3 separate regions of the Homo sapiens genome follow, and regions 2 and 3 are each linked to region 1. Evidence: fine-mapped expression QTL. A gene starts in region 1. Each other region holds a variant in brackets. All regions are shown on one strand. Distances are between the middles of the regions. Region 1 holds the start of CMKLR1 (chemerin chemokine-like receptor 1). Region 2 overlaps CMKLR1 (chemerin chemokine-like receptor 1). Region 3 has its middle 21 kb from the start of CMKLR1.

Evidence for each region. PIP is the estimated chance that this variant, and not a neighbour inherited with it, causes the effect. A credible set is the group of variants that fine-mapping cannot tell apart.
Region 2: its variant is the best candidate, but not a certain one, in a credible set for the expression of CMKLR1 in whole blood (INTERVAL, PIP 0.65).
Region 3: its variant is the best candidate, but not a certain one, in a credible set for the expression of CMKLR1 in cerebellum (GTEx, PIP 0.75).

What each region holds. Positions count from the first base shown.
Region 1 is chr12:108,335,452-108,342,668 of GRCh38, forward strand. CMKLR1 (chemerin chemokine-like receptor 1) reads right to left here and starts at 3,860. Exons shown (of 4, transcript NM_001142343.2): 1 at 3,576-3,860. RefSeq lists an enhancer at 3,293-3,916 and a silencer at 4,024-4,143.
Region 2 is chr12:108,287,447-108,294,663 of GRCh38, forward strand. It overlaps CMKLR1 (chemerin chemokine-like receptor 1), which reads right to left. Exons shown (of 4, transcript NM_001142343.2): 3 at 6,143-6,218; 4 at 600-5,513. The coding sequence starts at 6,145. The coding sequence ends at 4,395. Among named protein-coding and RNA genes, the nearest start is that of CMKLR1, 48 kb to the right of the region's middle. The variant T/C (reference allele first, on the strand shown) is at 3,407.
Region 3 is chr12:108,356,380-108,363,596 of GRCh38, forward strand. No RefSeq gene overlaps it. Among named protein-coding and RNA genes, the nearest start is that of CMKLR1, 21 kb to the left of the region's middle. The variant G/A (reference allele first, on the strand shown) is at 3,698.

The sequences.
Region 1 (7,217 bases):
TACCATGAGGAAGAGGACCACCCTCCATTCAGAAATACTTGCCTTATAATAAAGCTCTGCTTTGCTTCAGCCCTTATGCCTTTGGGGACCTATTTGTTACTGCAGCTACTACCCTAGCTGATATACCATTCGACCTCCTTATTTACAGATGAAATTATTGTGGCCAAAGAGTAAGAGTGCCTTGCCAAGGTCACACAGTAAGCTCAACAAATGTCTAGAACTTTGGTCTCTTAACTCCTTGGAGTAGAGGAGTTGCAGTTTCCTGCCTGCCCCATGGAGCTACAAAGATTCTTAGAGGCCCTTCAGCAACAAGAGTGAGATTTAGTGGCAGCCTGGAGTCTTCCACCTCTGTTTCAACAAGAATAACACCACCTTTATCTGTTTTCAAATTACACTTCCCCATAAGACTTTCATTTGTGGAAAGGATTCTGCAACTGAAAATAATTTCAAAGCCTCCATGCTGGGGGATTGCTAACACGATCTGACTTTCTGTGGTACTATAAGACAAAGTTTCGCTTCTTCTCTGCCAAACCTTCTGGCCTCAACTGCTGACACGGAACATGTGGATTCACAGAAGTACATGAATATTTGCTTAGAAGGGAAAAAAGAAACCTTATTGTGCAGCAAAGAACCCAAGACCCCAGTGTGAACAAAGGGCAAAAAGGAAAGACTTTTAAGCACTCTAGGTTGGTAGTTCTCAAGTTTTGGGGTGCATCTGAATGACCTGGGGTGCTGGTTCAACATGCAGACACTGAAGCCTCATCCACAGAGATTCTGATTTCCAAACTGAAGCTTTAAGAAACACTCACAATTGGCCGGGCGCAGTGGCTCACGCCTGTAATCCCAGCACTTTTGGAGGCCGAGGTGGGTGGATCACAAGGTCAGGAGATTGAGACCATCCTGGCTAATACGGTGAAACCCCGTCTCTACTAAAAATACAAAAAATTAGCCGGGCGGGGTGGTGGGTGCCTGTAGTCGCAGCTACTTGGGAGGCTGAGGCAGGAGAATGGCGTGAACCCGGGAGGCAGAGCTTGCAGTGAGCCAAGATTGCGCCACTGTACTCCAGCCTGGGCGACAGAGCGAGACTCCATCTCCAGGAAAAAAAAAAAAAAGAAACACTCACAATTATTCTAATGCAGGTGGTCTAGAGATTGCACTTTGAGAAGCTCTGAGTCTACTTCATAGCCTCGCAACTGGCGGTAATGTCTGCACCCATGTGGTGTAGCTCAAAGAGAATGAAATAAGCTTTTGGTTTTCTTGTACATCAGTGGGAATAAGAGCATTAATAATCCACTAAAGAAATCAATAATAATTTCCATTTGGCTCAGATGAGTGTCACAGGTATAGACAGGCACAGTGGAATAGAAATGATCATCAGAACAATAGCTAATGTTTATAGAGACCTTATTTTACAACAAATCCTCTGCTTACAGCTTTACTTGTATGATCTCATTTACTCTTTAGAATAATCTTATGAGGCAGTTACTGATCATATTCCCATTTTATAGATGAGGAAACTCAGGCACAAAGATGAGGAATAACTGATTCCATGTCACTCAGTTGGCAGGTGGCAGGCCAATTCAAGCCCACCCCCAGAGTGATAATAATATCAAATAATATCATCCTTATTTACAGATGATATTATTGTGGCCAGAGAGTGGGAGTACCTTGCCTAAGACCAAGGTGCCCCTTCTTGCACAATGTTCTACTCCCTTTTGTGGGGAGGTCTAGCATCAGAACTCTCCAGGCTTCTGTTTCCTAATCTGTAAAATGGGCATGTTAATAGTACCTTCATCATGTGGCCATGGTGAGGATTTGATAAAATCATCTCGAGAAAGTGGTTTGCAAACTGAGAGGAGTTATTAGGTAAACATCTAAGAGATGGGACTTCAGTCCAACTTCCCCCACCCCATTTTACAGATGGTGAAACTGACACCTGGTTACTTTATTTATTCCATGAACAATGACCCTAATATATGCTAGTTCTTGTGCAGGGGACTGAGGATGCAGAAAAAAAGTAATATCCCAGATCTGGCCTCTAGGGGCCTCCCGGCTAGAAGGAGAGACAGACAAGATGACTGGTCATTAGAACACGGTGTGGTAGGAGCCGTGATAAGGGAGGGATAGGCCCTGGGAGAGCCTAGCAGACAAGCCCTGACCCAGTGCGGGTAGGGGACTTCTCAGAACAAGTCAAGCCAGAGAAAGGCATGACTTGCCCAAAGTTAAGGTTATCTGTTCCCTGAAGTTTTGGGGGAGTCCAAAGAAGGCCCCTGTGCATCAAGAGATAACTCTCCTGTGGACCTCCCAAGTGTATGACACATCATCATTTGAGTGCCACTGGTTTAGGTTAAAGAAAAGGCCAAGCTGCCTCCTCCTGCACCAGAGGCCTGAATGACCCAGTCACACTCACCTCAGCAGCCAAGGCATTTAGAGGAATCTTACCTTCAAACCAGTTTGGAAGGGGCAGGAGATACAGCAAGAACCACAGAGAAGATTGGTCTTGAGAAGGAGGTAGGGGATGCAAAAGGGAAGTTGAGGGCTTTCCCTAATAGAAAAAGAAAGACTCAGAACCTGGACGTTCAGGCGTGTGACCTCAGACCAGTGATCTGGCATCTCTGAACCGCACAGGTCTGAGTGATTGGGCTTATATCAAGTAGTAGTTCCCTGATGTTGTAATGCTTATAATTTTGCCAAAGCTGGCTTGCCCATTTAAAATGGGCTATTCTGAAGACAGAGGAGGGAGTGGAATATTTTCAACAGAGAGTGCCGGCAAAGGTTTTGTGTCCTTTATATACAAAGAACCCTTAGATATCAATTGGAAAAAGATAAACATGCCCCCAGAGGAGAAAAAAATGGGAACAGACTTGAACAGGAGAGTCAGACTAGAAATGTGAAAAATAAGTTTATAAAAGAGAATCAACACTAACAAAGAAATGAAATGCCTATTGAAGCATCTAGATATTATTCTCGACTTCACATCAGGGAAAGTTTAAGGGATGGGTAGCAACAAGGTGGGTTTAGTATGTGAGAATACTGTGCCCTGGTATAACATCGTAGAGAGGTCAAGCTGCCACGGCCTTCCAGGGTGCAGTGTGACCAAAAGCTCAGAAGTCTTAAAAATAGGCAAACCTTAAATCTAGCAATTTCTAAAAGGTATTCATAAGACACACACACAAAGATGTCATACTAAATATTCATTGCAGCACTGTTCTAATAAAAAAAAAGAAGCAAATCTATTATGGAAAAGTCAAATAATCTTAAGATAGCCTTTCTATGCAGCCATGAAAAATGTATATTGGAAGAATATAGGTGATATGGAAAAAAGTTCACAATCTGTGGTTAAGCAGGTTACCAAACTAGATGTGGAAATCCACATTCATATATTTAGTTGTGTATCCTTGCTATTTCTTTAAACAATGAACATGCATTACTTTTGACATCTGAAAATAATAACAAAACTCTTCCTTTTAACAAATATGAAATTATAAAAAGAAACAAACTTTTCTCTCTGTTAGTATTCATTCCCCTTCCCTGGCCCCCCTCAGAAGACACCCAAGGCAAGTGTGTGATGATACCTTCCCTCTGGTCTCTGCCCGGAAGGTCTTCCTGAGGGTTCCCTGTGACTGCAGGCCACTCGAGGCTGTTGGGGAGACTTGCACACCCTGGCTTCTTTCTGCCAATCACAGGCTCCTCTGGCTGTGGCTGTTTGCCCAGAAAGCAGTTCATTCATTTGTTCATTCAAGATCCCCCTCTGAACCCCCAGAGCGCCGCAGCTGGAACACCCCTATCACCCGGAGGCTTCCCAGGGAGCCTGCTCTGTCCTGAGCTCCCTGCTGGCCGCCGGGGCTGCTTCCCTGAATGGGACTGGGACAGAACTCAGCCAGAGAAACAGCTGGAGGGAGGAGAGCAGGAGGGAGGGGCAGGAAACTGGGCTGACCTAGGGCGGGGGCGGCTAGCTGCGTGGAGAGGGGGCTGCGAGGGGAGGGTGCCCCTACCAGCCGGGGACTGGGCTTGTGGGTGGCGGCGGGGGCCCGCTGGGGACGACCCGCCCCTCTGGCAGCCTCTTGCAGCCGGGGAGCCGTGCCCACTGAGCGCAAACAGGGAGCACATCTGAGCACCCGGCTGCTGGGGGAAGTGCAAGCGCCTCTGCTCCCGGTGAGGGGCTCAAGCTCCACACTGACCGAGAGATTGGCTGCCTCTCACCCTGGGCCTTTGCAACGCTGTTCCTCCCACCTGGATGCTATTCCTGCCCTAATTCGTGGCCCGATGGTCTCCTACTGCCTCTTCAGGTCTCAGGTTGAAGGTCACCTCCCAGGGAAGCCTTCCCCAACCCTCGGGGGCTGCTGTGCCCCTCAGGGTCACCCCATCACCTCACTGATGCAGTGCTGTCCTTGCCTGTTAAGATGTCTCTCTCCTTGCACCGAGAACTCCTTGCACCAGGAACTCTGTAGGGAAAGAACTGTATTCTGTTCCCTGCCCTAACCAGGCGCTAAGTGCCTGGTTCATCGGCTGTGTGGTCACCATCATTAGTGGAATAATCAAAACAACCGACAGCCAGGCAGCGTGCTAGGCGATGCGTACTTACTCTTCACGGCAACCCTAGATAACAGGAATTATTACTACTCCAGTCTTACCAATAAGGAAACTGGGGTACAGAGAGATTAAGTCACTTGCTCAAGACCACACCGCCAGCAGCTGACAGAGCTGGGATTCCAACTATGTTGTCTGGCTCGGAGGCCCACCCTTGGCCTCCAGACTGAAGAAATAACAGAAGTGCCCATGTGGGCCCCTGTGCCAAGTGCTTCCATGGAGTAAGCCGTGTGAACCACCACCCACGTCGGGGGGGCATCACTTGCCCATTCTACACATGAGGATGCTAGGGCCACAGAGCAGAAGTCGTTTTGCCCAGGGCGCCAAGCTCATGCTGACCGAGCCATGGCTGGATCTGAGTCTGTCTGATTCCAAAGCCAAGACTGCCTACGACTGCCTAAAATAATATTTTTAGAAAGAAAAAGAAAAGGGAAGGGCAGGGGAGGGGAAGAGAGGGGAAGGGAGGAGAAGAAAGAAAGGAAGAAAAGGGAGGGCAGGGAGGAAGGTAATGGGGAGGAGGGGAAGGTGAAGGGAGAGGGAGATGGGGAGGGAGGGAGAGAAGGAGAGAAACCTGTGTTTTGGGCCTCAAAGTCTTGGGCAGGTGGAGGACTATGTCCTCATCGTCTGATCAGCCTTAGAACCCCACCGACCTCTCCCCACCATCCTCAATCCTTTAATTCAGTGAGCTTTACACTTAGAAACCATCTAATTTCATTCTTCCATTTCACAGATAACTTGAAGCCCAGAGAGATTGAGTCTCTTGCCTGAGGTCACACAGGTCTCTATAGTCAGAAGTCAGGCCCAGTCTACCCAACTGTCTTCCTTGCTCTCTTCTTCTTTGGGCTTATCTAGGGAACAAAACATCATATCGAAACACTTACTGTACAGATGAGAACACTGAACCCAGAGGAGGCAAGGGACTCACCCAAGGTCACCCAGAAGTTAGTAATTGTATTGGTCCGTTCTCACACTGCTGTGAAGAAATACCCAAGACTGGGTAATTTATAAAGAAAAAAGGTTTAATTGACTCACATTTTCGCATAGCAGGGGAGGCCTCAGGAAACTTACAATCATGATGGAAGGTACCTCTTCACAGGGTGGCAGGAGAGACAATGAGTGCCAGGCAAAGGGGGAAGCCTCTTATAAAACCATCAGATTTCATGAGAACTCACTCACTATCATGAGAACAGGATGGGGGGAAAACCACCCCCATGTTCAATTACCTCCCACCTGGTCCCTCCCATGACTCGTGAGGATTATGGAATTCCAATTCAAGATGAGATTTGGGTCGGGACACAAAGCCAAATCATGTCATTCCCCAGGTTCTCCTGGTGAAAGGAGAGGATATTTCCATAACGTGGCAGGGATCTTGTATATCACCATCTAATAGAGACCAGAGGTTCCTAAAGTCTAGTTTCCATACCAACCCCAGCAGCCTCACCCAGAAGTTTGTTAGAAACACAAACCCTTGGGCCTCACTGCAGACCTTGGCAATCAGAGACTCCAGGAAGCCATCTGGGTTTTAAGAAGCCCTCCAGGGGATTCTGATGCTTGCTCAAGTTTGAGATCCACTGACATAGGCATTTCAATTAGGAATCCATTGAAATGGGCCCTGGAACAAGTCACCTTGCCAATGCACAGAATAGTGGCTAAGAACAGAGGCTTTGATAGCAGACGGACCTGGTTTGAATTCCTGTCGCTGTCACTGTAAGCTGTGTGACTTGGGCAAGGCCTTTCACCTTTGGAGTCTCAGTTTCCTCATCTGCTGTGGACAGTGGAAGAGGAAGAGGAGGAAGAGGGAAAGGGAGGAGGGAGAGGAAAAGAGGAGGAGGGAAAAAGGAGAGGAGGAGGAGGGAAAGAGGAGAGGAGGAGGAGGAAAAAGGAGGGGCCAAGTAGAGGAGAGGGGAGGGGGAGGAGGAGGAGGGAAAGGGAGGAGGGATATGAAAAGAGGAGGAGGGAAGAGGAGCGGAGGAGGAGGGAAGAGAAAGAAAGGGGAGGAGGAGAGGGTGGGGGAGGAGGAGACGAGGAGGAGGGAGTAAGGAGGAGGAGGGAAAGGGAGGAAGGAGATGAAAAGAGGAGGAGGAAGGAGGAAGAGAGGAGGAGGAGGGAAGAGGAGGGGTCAAGGGGAGGAGAGGGGAGAGGGAGGAGGAGAAGAGGGGGAGGGGGTAAGGAGGAGGAGGGAAAGGGAGGAGGGAGATGAAAAGAGGAAAAAGAGGGAAGAGGAGAGGAGGAGGGAAGAGGAAGAAAGGGGAGGAGGGGGTCAGAAGGAGGAAGGGGGAAAGAGAAGAAGGGGAGGAAAGGGAGATAAAGGAGAGGGGAGGAGAAGAAGGAGTGGGGGAGAGGAGGGAGAGTGGGAGAGAAGAGAAGGAGGCCAGAAGGCAGCCTTCGAGGAAGATCAAGCACACGGGTACTATGGAAGAGGAGCTGGGTAAATCCAGCCCGGGGATGGACTCCTGGACATGCCTCTTCCTCCCTGGAGGTGGCTGTGGCTGTGGCATGCCTCCCTCTGCCTCTGGCCTCCCAGCCAAACCTAAGCTCGGGTCTCATCAGCTAGGAGCCACAACTGGCAGAGCAAGGACACTGGTCCCCCAGCCAGCTGGGTCCCTGGGTGGCTGGCAGAGGAGGTG
Region 2 (7,217 bases), 48 kb before region 1:
ATGGATGGTGGATGTGTGAGTGGATATTGGGGTGAATAGATGGTTGGATAGGTGGGTGGATCTTGGGGTGAATGAGTGGGTGAATGGGTGGGTGGATGGGTGGGTGAATCTTGGGGTGAATGGGTGGATGGGTAGATCTTGGAGTGAATGGGTGGGTGGATAGGTGGGTGGATGTTAGGGTGAATGGGTTGGTGAAAAGGTGAATGGATGAATGTGTCACAGGAGCATCTGTCCTTGGGCCACCTGATGCAGTGCCAAAGAGTATAGACCTGACCATGAGGAGGCCTGGCTTTATGTCCCTTATCTGCTAGGGTTTACTATATTATCTTGGGTGAGTAACTACCTCTTTCACATCCTCAGTTGCTAGAAAAGCAAAATAAGTGAAAAGAATTTTTTTCAAAATGCAAATTTCTTGGAGCTCGAAGGTTTGAGAATGGCAGGTTGGGGACTTCAGGGCTTCTCCTGCTGCCCACAACATAGCTCTGTGACTTTGCACTGGCCGCCTCACCTCTCTGAGCCTCAGCTGCTGTTCTGTGAAGTAAGTGAGGAAGGCAAAAGGGAGGTGATGGCAGGAACCCCCAGAACTGAGCCACACACTCTTGCTTCAGTCTCTTTATTCGAGAGAAACTTTGTCCTCAAAGGGAAGAAGTAAGAAGACCCCCTGCTGAATTATTTCACAGTAGAAATAGTAGATTCCTCTCTGGTCCTAGATACCACCCCCAGCAGCAATTTTCCAAACCCAGGATTTGGTAACCTTGGGCCTAGGGCATCCCAGCCCCAACAAGAGCATAACATGTTAGGGAGGAACGAGAGAGGGAGGCAGGGCAGGAGTTGAGGAATCACCGACCACTTTCATCCAAACCAGACACCACCTCGTTTTGCAGAGTCCTCAGGGGAAGCTCTCAAAACCTCAGTTCCCTCATCTGTGAAATGGGAGACATCTGGGCAAGATGAGTTTGAAGGTCCCTTATGGTTTTCACGATTGGATTCTATCTTCTCCCACCCATCCAGGCTCCCAACCCCACCAGAGCTGACTCTGGGGTCGAATTTGAGCCAATCCCCTCCCTTTGTCAGTGCCCAGTTTCCTCACCCCTTCTGAACCTTGCTGCCAGAATCTCTGTGCCTCTTCTCTGGAGAAGGACCCAGGAACCTGCAGGGCTCTGTGCGCTCTGGGAATTATCTAAGGCTGGCAAAGGCATCCCGGTGCTTGAGGCCCTTCGTGTTCTTGCTCTTCCCTTCTCCCTGTCCTTGCTGGCTCAAGGGTCAGCTGGAGATGGTTCTGAAATCAAATTCCTCCCACTCTTTGGACTTCCATTCCTCTCCCCTTCTCTCTTCTTTCTTTCTTCCTTGTCTTTTCCTTCTTCTTCTCCCCACCCTCTCCTTCCAAGGGCTGAAGAAGTTGGGCATTCAGGCAGCTGACCTGATTCAAAGCCCAGCTCCATACCTCACTAGCTGTGCAACTCTGAACTAGTGAAGTCTGTTCTTGAAACAGAAACTCACTTTCTGCACCCCCCCCCCACCTTGCTATGATGGTCCCCTTCTGCCAGGGCCAATTTGAGGTTTCAGTGTTTGTGCCTGAACCATCGTAGGTGCTTCATGAATGCCAGATCCCTTTCCTTCATCATCATGCTCTGGGACCTTTCTGTCCCCTCTCCTGTCCCTCCCCTATCCTCAAACACCATCTTCTTTTCTTTTCCCTCTACCTCTTGTCCTCACGATCCCTCAGCTCCCCCACCCCACCCAGGAGGCAGGGCTAAGTAAGGCCCCATCACTGAGTCCTGGGCCCAGAGAGAAGGCTCTGGGCACTAAGTATGTTGGTTGCCTGTGCAGCAGTGCAGGTGAGCACACTTTGCACACTGCAGGGACGATATATGCATGACCCATGGAGATGTTCACATGAAGCTGTGGGGACAAGACTGTATGGGATGTTAAGGCTGCATTTAAGTACTTGACAGGAACCTAAGTCAGAACAGGAAGACCCACAGAGCAGCCAGAAAGAGGGAGGCCAGACTCTAAGGAGGAAAACAGCCGGTTTGAATTGTGCTCCTGTTTATCAGCTTTTCCAATGACAACATGAATTCCTGGCTCCCCCATCCTGGCCTGGACTGCCAGAAGCCCAGGAAAAGCAGCATCCTACAAGCCAGGAGGGCCAAGGCGCTGACGACTGCTGCTGTGACCCGGGACAGGTCCCATCCCATCTCGTGCCTCAGTAAATGTGGGAAGAGGGGAGATGGGGGCCACTGAGCAATATTTAAAGCTCCCTTTTTGCTCTCAAACCGTCTATATTCAAACTCTTTAAAGCATTCAGAGGCTCCAGCTTGGGATCAATTCAGAGCTGCCTTGTCATAAGCATTAAGGCACAATAAGGGAAGGAACAGTTTGTCTCTTAATGAAGTGTGATTCCAAACAGCCCATGGCCTCGGGAACTCGCCCAGCGCGGGGTAGACATTGCATCTGTTCATTGCATCTTGTTGGAGAATCAGCTTAACAATGAAGGGACTTGGAAGAGAACAGAATGTGGACACTTAGGAGCCAAAGGGCCTCAGGCCCACAAGGGACTGCCTCCTGCCAGCTTTCCCTCCCCATTGCCTTGATCTCTGGAGACATAGGAGGTGGGAGCCACGGTAGGAGGCTGTTAATGGCTGTTGAGGGAGCTGGAAGCCAAGTGCATTTTCTCTGCCATGTTGCATCATTTTTGAAAACTATTTGCAAAGTTTCTTAAAGGCCATTAAGATGTTCATCCTCATTTGCAGAAAAATCAATATTTATGGCAAAAATCTCCAAACTTTTTAAGTCCTTCCCAACTCTGCAGCCTCATTTGAGCCAGGCAAACTGAAGTTCAAATCCAAGCTCCGGCAGAGACTAGCTGGGTACCTTTGGGCAAGTTACTTAACCTCTCTAAGCCTCAGATTCCTCCTATGTAAAAGGGAAGTTATAACCATACCTAACTCAGGGTTGCTGTAATGATTAAATGAGAAAACATATGTAAAGTGCATAATATAAAAAGTGCTAAATAAATGTAGGCTATCAATATACTAGAATAATCTCCACAGATAAATTCCAAATAGAAGAACAGAGTTTCTGGAGCCAGACGGAGCCAGGTTCAGATCTTAACTCTGCCACTGATTAGCTGTGTGATGCTGGGCAAGTTACTTTCCCCATCTGGGCCTCAGCTATGTCATTTGTAAATGGGGCTATGACACTCTGTGGCCACAGGGACGTGTCAGTATTAGATGAGAAAAGCCATGCCAGGCACCTGTATCCAGGAGGTATTTGGTGTCTGCAGCTCAGAAACACAGTTCAAGGAGTCCAGCTCCAGACTCTGTCTCAAGTGACTGAGTCCTCGGACATACTCTTCTTCCCAGGGGACTCTCCGGAGTTGCTTCCCAAAGCTGCATTTTGGACC[T/C]GTCTCCAAAGGCGTTGAGGAAATTAACCAGAATGAGAAGCCCCACCACCAGTGTTTTATTCTAAGCACCTCCAGCCAGAGCTGAGTGGATTAGGAAAGGCAGAAAAAAATCCCTGTGATGGGGTGAGGGCTGCTGGTGAAGATGCCTGCCACAACCCCACCCCCAGGTAAGAGGGGCAAGGTGAGATCAGGGGCTGGCACCACCCTGACGCCCCAAATAGCTCCAGCCTAAAGCACCATCAGCCTGCGATGTTCTAGGGTGAGCTGCTCCATGCCTGCATCCTTTAAAGGTTCTTTTCTCCTTTCTCATTTCTTTGCCAAATCTCAAGTCCTCGTTGCATCCCTCACTTGTCTTGCCCTTGCAAAGAGCCCACAGGACCTCTCAGGACCAGTTCTCTGTCTTCCTAGCTGATCCGAAAGCCAAATTCATGGCCTATGGAGTTCATGGGCTGATATGTCACCTTCCTCTCCCAGATCACCTATGCATTTCCACATACTTTAACACAGAGCAGTGACTTGAAGGTAGGGTTTTCTGGCCAGCTACTGATAATATATATACAAGGGCCAAGTGTGATCTGCATCACACTGGGTTTGCTCTGACCCCCTCACTGCTCACACCAGGAATGGACCTTGGAGAGTGTCATTTCTGGGGCACACACAATAGGCAGCTTAATCCCACCGCCCTATGCCAATCCCAGTTCATGGCAATGCTTTTGAGAATTCTTCCTTTTTTGCTTTGAGTCAGTCAAGGCTGGCCTCCCAAGAAGCATAAATTGCTAGTCCAAGGCTGTATGGAACACAGCATGTTCTGTCCACTAGAAGAAAGGGGTTCCAGGCCCTAGATTCCCAGCATAAAACACTGTTCATCCCATGCAAAATGCAGTGAAAATTGGTGGATGCTAAAGAGGTTCTTGCCTTGATCTTCAGAAGACATATCCTTGGGTGTCCCTGGGTTGAGAGAGTCCATTGAGGGGTTCCACAGTGAGGATCAAAGCATGCCGGTCTCCCTCTCATTCATAGAAGTCCTCTCATTCATTGATGACATCTTGGTAAAGCTTCTATGGCTGGGGTAGGAAGAGTGGCCTGTATCTTCACTTAGAGCATTGACCAGGCGAGAGAAGAGGGCCACCTTGAACTTCTTGAAGTCCTGACCCATGAAAACATACAGAATGGGGTTCATGCAGCTGTTGGCAATGGCAAGGGCAGTGGCCAGGGGCAAACCCAGGCTGAAGACAGAGCCAGGCATGGCAGTGTGGTGGAGCTCTAGGAGGTTGAGTGTGTGGTAGGGGCACCAGCAGAGGAAGAAGGTAATGATGATGGTCACAATAATCTTGAAGGGCTTCTTGGTCTTGGCCAGGCGGTTGCGCTGCAGTTTGCACACGATGGTGAGGTAGCAAGCTGTGATGATGAGGACTGGGACCAGGAAGCCACAGAGGAAGCGGGTGACAGTCACCACCATGTGCCGGCTATACCCCACAGGGTCCATTTGGGAGTGAGTGGGCCACGAGGAAGACCCAGGTGTGGACAGGCTGAAGTTGTTGAAGCAGGATATTTTCCCATGCAGGTTGGCTGTGTCCCGGAAGACGAGAGATGGGGAACTCAAGAAGAAAGCCAGGACCCAGATGACCATGCAGGCCATGTAAGCCAGGCGAACGCTGCGGTGGTTCTGGGACCAGACAGGGAGGAGCACAGAGATGCAGCGGTCAGAGCTGATGATGGTCAGCAGGAAGACGCTGGTGAACATGTTGTGGATGAGAAGGAAGTTGCTGATCTTGCACATGGCTGTCCCGAAAACCCAGTGGTAGTCCATGGCGGCATAGGTGATATGGATTGGGAGGAAGACGTTGAACAGGAAATCTGCCACTGCCAGGTTGAGGAACCAGACCATGTTCACTGTCTTCTTCATCTTGAAGGTGGCAATGATGATCACCAGACCATTGCCCAGAATCCCGAGGAAGCAGACGATGCTGTAGACCACCACCAGGAAGATCCTGGTCACCCTGGCTTCCAAGGGGGATAAGTCCTCCAAAACCACAATGGAGTCTAAATAATCAGGGTATTCATCACCGTAACTGATGGAAGTGTTGTAATCTTCATCCTCCATTCTCTGCAAGAGAAGACAGGGACCATTAGAGGAACCCTAGAGTTGGCTTTAAGAGGTTGACCAATACCAGCAAGACCAACAATGTTCCCCCTGACTCTGAGCAAGTCCAGTTTTGTGATTTAACCATTTCCTTCTTTGCTATTTTATTTATTGAACAAATGCCTCTCTGGTACCTCCTACATGCCAGGCACTATTGCATTCTACACTCTCTTAATCTTCACAGTAACTCAATGAGGTAGGTAGGTTATGAGCCTCAACTTACAAATGAGGAAACTGAGTCACAGAGAGCTTATGTCATTTGCCTGAAGTCCTACAGCTAGGAAAAGGCAGACCTGTGATTTGAATCCAAGCTTCAGAGTCTATCCTTTTGACAACCATGTTTTCTGTCTGCTTGGGGCCCTGTCTTCCTCTAGAGCCTAGTGGGGGAGACAATTGTTCATCAAAAAGTCCCTCAAATAATGGGAACATTGCAATAATGCTAAGTGCAATGAAGAAGAGGTACATGGTGCTGTGAACTTGATTCCAACATGCTTCTAAAACCAAGTGGACAGCCTTGTTGTGATCCCCCTGTGCACCCAATCTGTCAGTGGTCACTGGTGCCCTTTGGAGTTCAGACCACAAGACTTCCTCACCATTCACCGTTATGTTGTCTGCAGCTCTCCAATGTGAGTCCTCAGCCAATCAGTCCCTGTACACAGCTAGAAACACCTGTAGGGAAAAAAAAAAAAAAAAAAGCAGCAATTGGATCCAGGTCTAAGAACCAGAGGGTTGAGTGGACCCAGCCAGAAATAAGATCTGTTGTTCTTATTCCCATTTTACAGAGAAGGAAGCAGAAGTTCAGAAAGGCTGTTATTCAGCCAAGGTTATGCAGCCAGGAAGGGATGGAGCCCCTTGAACCTAGGTCAACTGACTCTTCCCAGGTCAAGTGCTGGACTCTTCATTCTAACCACTCCCCTCTCCCAGCACATCCCTAGCTGACAGCTGGAGTCGGGCATGAGTAAAGGAAGACACAGAGGAGGTACATGGATGGCTCAATCCACTACCAGGTCGGGACTCAACTCCACTACCAGGGCAGGACCCACAAAATACTGTTTTAGGAAGTGTGAGCACAGAGAAAACAGGAGAAGACCCACACAGAGTACCTGCTATGTGCCAAGAACTTTTATTCTTTCTTGTTATTTAGTCTTCCTTGGGACTTTTCCAGGCAGGTGTTATTCCTTTTGTGTTAAGAAATAGAGAGACTGAGGCTCAGAGAAAGAAGCATCATTCTTGCTGGATATTCTCTGGGCCCTATGGGAACCATGAATGAGATGCAGGCTCTGAAGCCACAGCAGTCTGGTGTGAAGACAGACACAAATATATCCACTGAGCCTCCGCTGTGCAGACAACTTAAGTGGCACTTTAAACAAGCCCCATAACAATCTTGCTGAGTATTTTTCCAGTCTATGGAAGAACAAACATATTCTGAGGAGTTTGCAAGTTTGCAAGATCTTGGAGGCAGTGATCACATGCAGGGTTCATACCTAACCCCGGACACTTATGAGCTGTGTGGCTTTGGGCAAGTGATTTCTCTTCCCTGAATCTCAGTTTTCTTACCAATAAATGGGATTTCTCACCTCACAGAGTGTATATAAGAACTAGAAGCATCAGAAATGTGGAGCATTTAGCTTGGTATTGGCACATAGTAAGCCCTCAATAAATACTAGT
Region 3 (7,217 bases), 21 kb after region 1:
GCAAGCTATGAGCTCAGACAAATCAATTTGTATTATAAAACAATAGCCTATAACATAGACAAGACACTAAATAAATATTGAATCACAACATGAGAAAGTTGCTTTTTCGATTCTTTTTCTGTCCTTCTAATTATACCAGGGAAAGTCTCAATTTGGTGCTACCAGGTCTTTAACACCTTCTTCAACATTTGCCAATCTCCCTTTATAACAAAGAAAGAGCAGGCCTCAAGCTCAAAGCCTTGGGCAGGCAACAGTATCAACCAAACATTAATAACCGTGTTTTATTTTGATTGTTTATGTAGGGGTGGTATTTTATGGTCACTTTCTATTTGAGGAAATTGATATTGGTTTTCTATTTACTGTGGTCATGTAAATTTCCCTTTTGAGCTACATTTACTGATATTTTTAATGAGTACATTCACTGACATTTTTAATGAGTAGATTTAAAGGACAATATTAAATTCACGACACCATAGAAATGGTATACAAGCAGGGCAAAAATAAAAACGGTGGCACTGGGATGGCTGAAGCTTGAGGAATGCTGTCCCATGAAATTAAAAATAACCCAGCCATGTAATTATATTGTCCTGAAGGTAGATTGCAAGTTACCTAAATAGCACAGATCCACTATAGCCCATCATTATTAAAGCAAATTTTTGAAGGCTTACGTAGCAGTTACTTTAGCAACAGAGGTATAACAGAATCATATTCGAGCCACAAGACATATGTGCCTGAAAGTCTAATTACTGGAAAATTATAGGCCTCAGAAATACAGCTATGCCTCACTGCATGCTGCAGGGCTGGCTGAGTAGCTCATGGTAATTGGATAAACCACATCTACATAGAGGTTGTGTGGAAAGGAATAACCCTTCCCCCAACACCCTCAACAACCTCGATGATTCATTCATTCATTCACTCATTCAGTCATTCATTGCAATTTTTACTAGGTCCCTGCTAGATACATTGGAATACCATGAAGGGCTACAAAGGCCTGACAACTGCTCCTAGCAAGTTTCCAGTCCAGGGTGGGGTCCCCAACTTCAACCCCAGCCTTCCATGCCTGAGTGTCTAACTGCCAACTAGGCTCTGAAAAGAGCCCCATTCTTTGAATACATTTAACAAAGGAACCTGCCTACCCAGAGGTGGGTGGTCAGGGGAGGCTTCCTGGAGGAAGTGAGCATCAGGTTGAGATCTGAAGAAAGAGTAGGAATGAACGAGGGAAAGTGGGAGAGGAGAAGGATGCGAAAGGGCAGGTGCTTCCGTGTGTGGGTGTGGCCTCGCATCCCACGAGCAGCCCACAAGGTGAGCATCTCGCCCTGGGAGTGTGACTCTTGGATTCCAAGATATGCATTTCATATGTCTTGACCCCTAAATACAATCCAGTAATGGCATCCGTTCTTCAGTAAGAAAACAGCTATCTGATCCCAACACTGAGGAAAAATGTAGGGATGTTGAGTGGGTTTCCGCATCACCCTCACCCCCATGGGATTTTAAAGAAGGATTGTGACCACTCAGAACTTTCATCAGATGCACCAACATTTTAAAAATATACAAAAACAGTTGTTCTTGACCCTGGCTGCACTTTTGACTCCCTAGGGAGCTTTCAAAATCTCCAAGCCCAAGTCACACCCAAACCAAGTTAGTTAGAATCTCTTGGGGTGGAGCCCAGGGGTCAGTAATGTATAAAGCTCCCCAGGGAATCCAATGTGCAGCCAAGGCTGAGAACCACATAAGGAACCTGACCTCTATGGTGGATATGGTGGATGCAAATCTACAAAGACACACTGAGCACTTATTATGTGCCAGGCACTGGGCTGGGGGTGAAGTGGAGATTCGTGAGAATCAGATCCCACTGTGGTTTAACAATAGTGTGGAAGATGGCACCCACTTTCAAAGTATGCACTAGAACCAAGATAAAGATGAAAATTTCTCTGGTCACACCAATTGCCTGGGGAGCTCAGTGCAGATTCTGTGTCAGTAGGTCTGGGTTGGAGTCCAAGAGTCTGCATTCCTAGCAAGCTTCCCCTGGATACCTGAGATGCTGCTGGACTGAGAACCACACCTGGGTGGCAAGATTCTAAAGGAAATCTCTCAGATCCAGGCTACTTTTCCCCACCATGTCTCCACTACTCTGACAAGGCTGAGCATTGTCTGGAGATGATTTTTTCTTAAATTTAGGAAAAGAAGGAAATGCACCCTCGCAGCCTGCCAGGTGTGGGCTTGTATCCCCATGTCAGCTCCCAGCACACACCTTCAGATTCAGAGCAAGGGGCATAGCTCAAGAAGAAAGAGAAGGGCTGGGGAGGGGGGTGCTGAGTCAGAGGTTTTCAAAAATAGCAAACTCTCTGTGCCCAGCAGCCCCCGCTGCCTAATGAGTCCCCTATCTGGGGCCAGAACAAAGGCAAGGAAATTCAAGAAGCATAGAGATCAAAACCGCCTCCGAGGCTCTCCCACAATGAGTCTTCGTTTCTAATTAATCATCCCATTCTTGGCAAATCAATTGTGCATGTTTTAAAATCCGTATACCAAGAGCAAGCGATGGGGTGGGAGTTGAAAGCAAGAGGGTTCTGGAGCTGAGCTCGGGGCCATGAATTCTTGCGGGAGTAGCCGAACAGCAGGAGGGAACAGTAAAGTCAGCTGTGACCCATTCGGCAGAACCAGAAAAGAATAGATCAGGGGACACAAACACGTGCAGAGACCAGGCAGGTCATGGGAACCAGTGGACTGGACAGGGGTTCGTTGAAGGAGCGATGGGAGCAATGGTGGACCAGTCAGGGATTGGTCCACCTGACCCCAGAGGGTGGCTACTCAGTGCCAGCCCCTCCTTGCCAAGCAGAAATTCAGGCCTGGCTTTGCTGGATCTCCCTTTTTTTATCTGAAAATATCTGAAAGTAAGATTCTTTTAAATATGAAATATCCTGATTTATAGAAGTTGTCTCAAATGGTTTGGAAACACCATGCCATCCATCAGAATATATTGGAGAACCACATATGGAGTGCACGCCGCCAATGTGTAACCTCTGAAGTAGAGACTGGAGGAATTACCTGGAAAATGAAAAGTTATTTCCAATTAATTTAAGCCCAAACCCATCAGATTCTCTGGGAGTCCTCAGATGAAAGAATGAAAGAGAATGTATATTTGTATATTCACATCATGCCTACTGGCAGCAGACACTGCATCCACCTCTCCAGTTGCTTATTCATTCAAACAAGACTAACTGAGCAGCTACTATTTTTCAGGCCCTTTGCTATATGTGCTGTCAACAGGTCATCCCTGGGAGCAAGGAACATAGAAGTCCACAAGATCATTTCAGATAGTGGTAAGTACTCAAAGGTGCATAAAACAGGGGGTCGTCGGCCAGGTACGGTGGCTCACGCCTGTAATCCCAGCACTTTGGGAGGCTGAGACAGAAGGATCACTTGAGGTCAGGAGTTCGAGGCCAGCCTGGCCAACATGGTGAAGCCCCAACTTTACTAAAAATACAAAAATTAGCCAGGCGTGGTGGTGCACACCTGTAGTCTCAGCTACTCAGGAGGCTGAGGTGGGAGGATTGCTTGAGCCCCAGAGGTGGAAGCTGCAGTGAGCCATGATCACGCCACTGCACTCCAGCCTGGGCAACAAGCAAGACTCCACCTCAAAAAAAAAAAATGGGGGGTGTGATGATGGCAGTCAGGAAGCAGCTGTGTGAGCAGGCAG[G/A]GTGGGCTCCCTGAATCTGAAGGATCCAATTATCAGCCATCAAAATCTCAAGATGGACTGTACCAGCCAGAGGAAATTGCCAAGGCAAACACCCTGAGGTAGATTTGAGCTTGAATTATTTTCATTCATCATCAAGATAAATGTATGAGGCATTGTTGTGCCCATTGATCAGATGAGGACACTGAGGCCAGACTTGCTCCCAAGATCACATGGCTAGTGAGTAGCAGAAAGCCAATTACTGATCCCCTGTCTTGGACCAGTAATGTCACTAAAATGGGTGACTAACTTGGGGGTCATTTTCCCACCTTTGCACAGCTAAGGATTCTTCCCTAAATCAAAGGAGCCAGCAGAAGAGGCTGCAGTCTGTTACCCCAGAACATTCTTTATGGTGGGGCTCCTCATGGTCCCCAGGCCAGCAGCTGTCCCTGTATTTGAAGCATTCAGGGCATTCATCTTTCTCACCAACATCCACACATACAACACCACATTAAGACTTCAAGACCACCTCCCTGGGGACTGTGGGAAGCCCCTGAGGTTTTGGTGGAAGCATCTGCTGAGATCAGGGCATCCAACCAGCAACTGGGCTTGACCCACATGCATAGGAGAAATGAATCATCACAGTGGCTCATTATGCTTTCTAATACCTTTCAAGCTCTTCCTCCCAGTTTTATGCTTCTCAGCCTGGAGCTCACTTCCCTGGAATTCCCCAGTGGCTTGCTAATGAAAACATCCTTGTGGAACCTCTTTCTTCAATGTCTATTTGACTCAGGAATTACAGAGTGGAAACCCATCATTTTTCCCCAAAACAAGCACAGGTACTTTTGTGTCCAGATTTTGCCACTGATGCTGTCTAGCAAAGCACCTAAGATTCTGTGGCTTAAAACCATAATACTTCATTCTCACTCACATATTTGTGAGCTGGGGGGTGATCAGCTAACCTGGATGGGCTTGGCCAAGCTTGGCTATTAGCCATTGATTGGATCCCAATCTGCTCCAGGTGCCACTCACTCTCCCTGGACAAGTTGGGTAGCCAGGGCATGTGCTTTTCAAGGTGATGGCAGAAATTCAAGAGGGGTGAGAATAAGCCCATGAAGACTTTTAAAGCCCAGGTGAGGAACTGGCACATCGTCACTTCTGCCCACATTCCATTGGCCAAGCAAGTCACAAGGCCACACCCCATAGATGTGTAGAAGAAAGTGAATAATCACAGTGTTCCATTATATCTTCCAATACTTTTCAAACCCTTCCTCCCAGCTTAATGCTTCTCATAAAACTGACCCCCTGTCTTGACCCAGTAATGTCACTAAAGTGAATGACTTATTTGGCATCATTGTCCTATCTTTGCCTGGCCAAGGTTTCTTCCCTAGAACGGGGGAGCCAACAGGCAAGGCTACAGTCTGTTACCGCATATATTCTCTATAGAGTTCCTCATAGCCCCCAGGCCCAACACCAGTGGGGTGGAGTAGACTTACCCCCTAGTGAAGGCATTGCAAAGACACATCACAAAGGAATCAACACCTGCATGGGGACAGAAAGGATGCTGCATCGGCAGAGGGAGAAATCTGGCTGGGACATAGCCTCAGTGGAGGCTTCTGTTAACCCCACAGAGAATGCTGGAGCTGAGATGATCCTACAGAGCCAGGAAGAGGTGGGACAAGATACCAGACCTTACTACTCCTGCACTGTAATCAATGTGGGCTGTTTCCCGAAGGGACATGGCTTTGAGAAAGTTAAGCAAGAGTGATTTCTACATCAGAGGGGACTCCTGCAGAGGCTGATAGTTGCAGCATCCCCAGCTGCTGGGACAATAGGTTTTCAGTCCCACATCCACTTCACAAGTCCACCCTGACATTTGTGGGGCCGGGGGCAAGAGGATAAATGGGGGTCCACATAGCATATGTCTAAATGCTTAAAATTATCAATCAAGCTTGCTAACGTTAAACAGAAAATGTTCTATCCTCCTACTTTGACAAACAGACCTTTCCCAACAACTTGGAAGCCTAGGATCTAATGAGGAACTCAGATTTCTCAGTGCTCCACGCTGGAAGACAGCAGAGAGAAAGCTGGTCATCCATCTATTTCCCACCCCTCTTAATTTCCCACCCCAGCTTCATCGCACACTAAGAAGGGCCTTGCACCCACAGATGAACACACACAGCCCAGTGCTCAGATCCAAAATCTGTCACTCTTTAGCCATCTTTGGCCTGAGTGCACTGCTCTTGGGAGAAAAGATCCAGGGAAGAAGCCCTGCAAGCCCCTTGGGCAGGGAATCCTCAGCTCCCAGGTACTCAGGACATGCACTAGAAGGAGGAGGAAGTGAGCTCTGGATAACCACTTTCCTGGGGAAGGGCAAGGCCAGAGGAGTATCAGAGCAGGCCTCTGTCTTCCATTGCCCAGGGAAGCCTCTCTTGCCCAAGACCAACTGCAAGGCTGGTCTAGAAGACAAGCAAGTTTTCCTCTTAGGAAGATCAAGCTCACTGGAAAGGCAGCAGAGCGAGGTGGGTAAGAACACAACTCCTGTGGAACCAGACAGCCTGAGTTTCATCCAGGCTCCGTCACTTACTAGCTGTATGATCTTGGCCTTTGTTTCCACATCTGTAAAATGGGAGTCATAAGGCTCATAGGGCTGTCATGGGGGTTAAGGGATATCACACATCTAAAGGCCTTAGACCTGGTGCCTAATAAGGATTACATAAGTGTTTGATGAATAAAACCACCTCCCAAAGCATCACTTTAACATGATATTCTAGTAAAAGAGCCTTCTTTCTCATAAGGGGTGGGGAAGAGGAAGAGTGAGATGGTGAAAGTGACAGAAAATCACATCCTGCCACACGAGCGAATTGCTTGACTTCCCCAGACCCCAGACATCCAGCAAAATCCATACCCTTCAAGGATGGGCCACGGATGGCTGTGGCACCATGTAGCCACCCCCAACATGGGCAGAACGGCCCACTCCCTGCAGTTCATGGGGCCTGGCCTCTCTGACAAGAGCCACAAAAGTAAAACGTGGCTCAAACTGATTTGGAAAAACCATGGAAGAGAAGACCTGACGTGGTCAAGCTTGTTCCAGAGGAGGAGCTGGGAGAGTGTGTGTGTGCATGGTGTGTGTGTGGAGTGTGGGGGGGCGTGTGTGTGTGTGGCATGTGTGGGGTGTGTGTGTGCATGTGTGGCGTGTGTGGCGTGTGTGGTGTGTATGTGACGTGTGTGGTGTATGGGGGCGTGTGTGTGGGTGTGTGTAGTGTGTGTGGCGTGTGTGTGTGGCATGTGTGTGGTGTGTATGCGTGGTGTGTGTGGTGTGCATGTGTGCATATGTGTGGTGTGGTGGGTGTGGTGTGACGTGTGTGTGTGATATGTGTGGTGTGTATGATGTGTGGGGGGTTTGGTGTGTGTGTACGTGTGTGTGGTGTGTCTGTGGCGTGTGTGCATGTGCATGTGTGTGGTATGGTGTGTGTGTCGTGTGTGGTATGTTTGTATGTGGTGTTGGAGAGTGATGTGTGGGGGGGGTGTGGGTGTTGTGTTC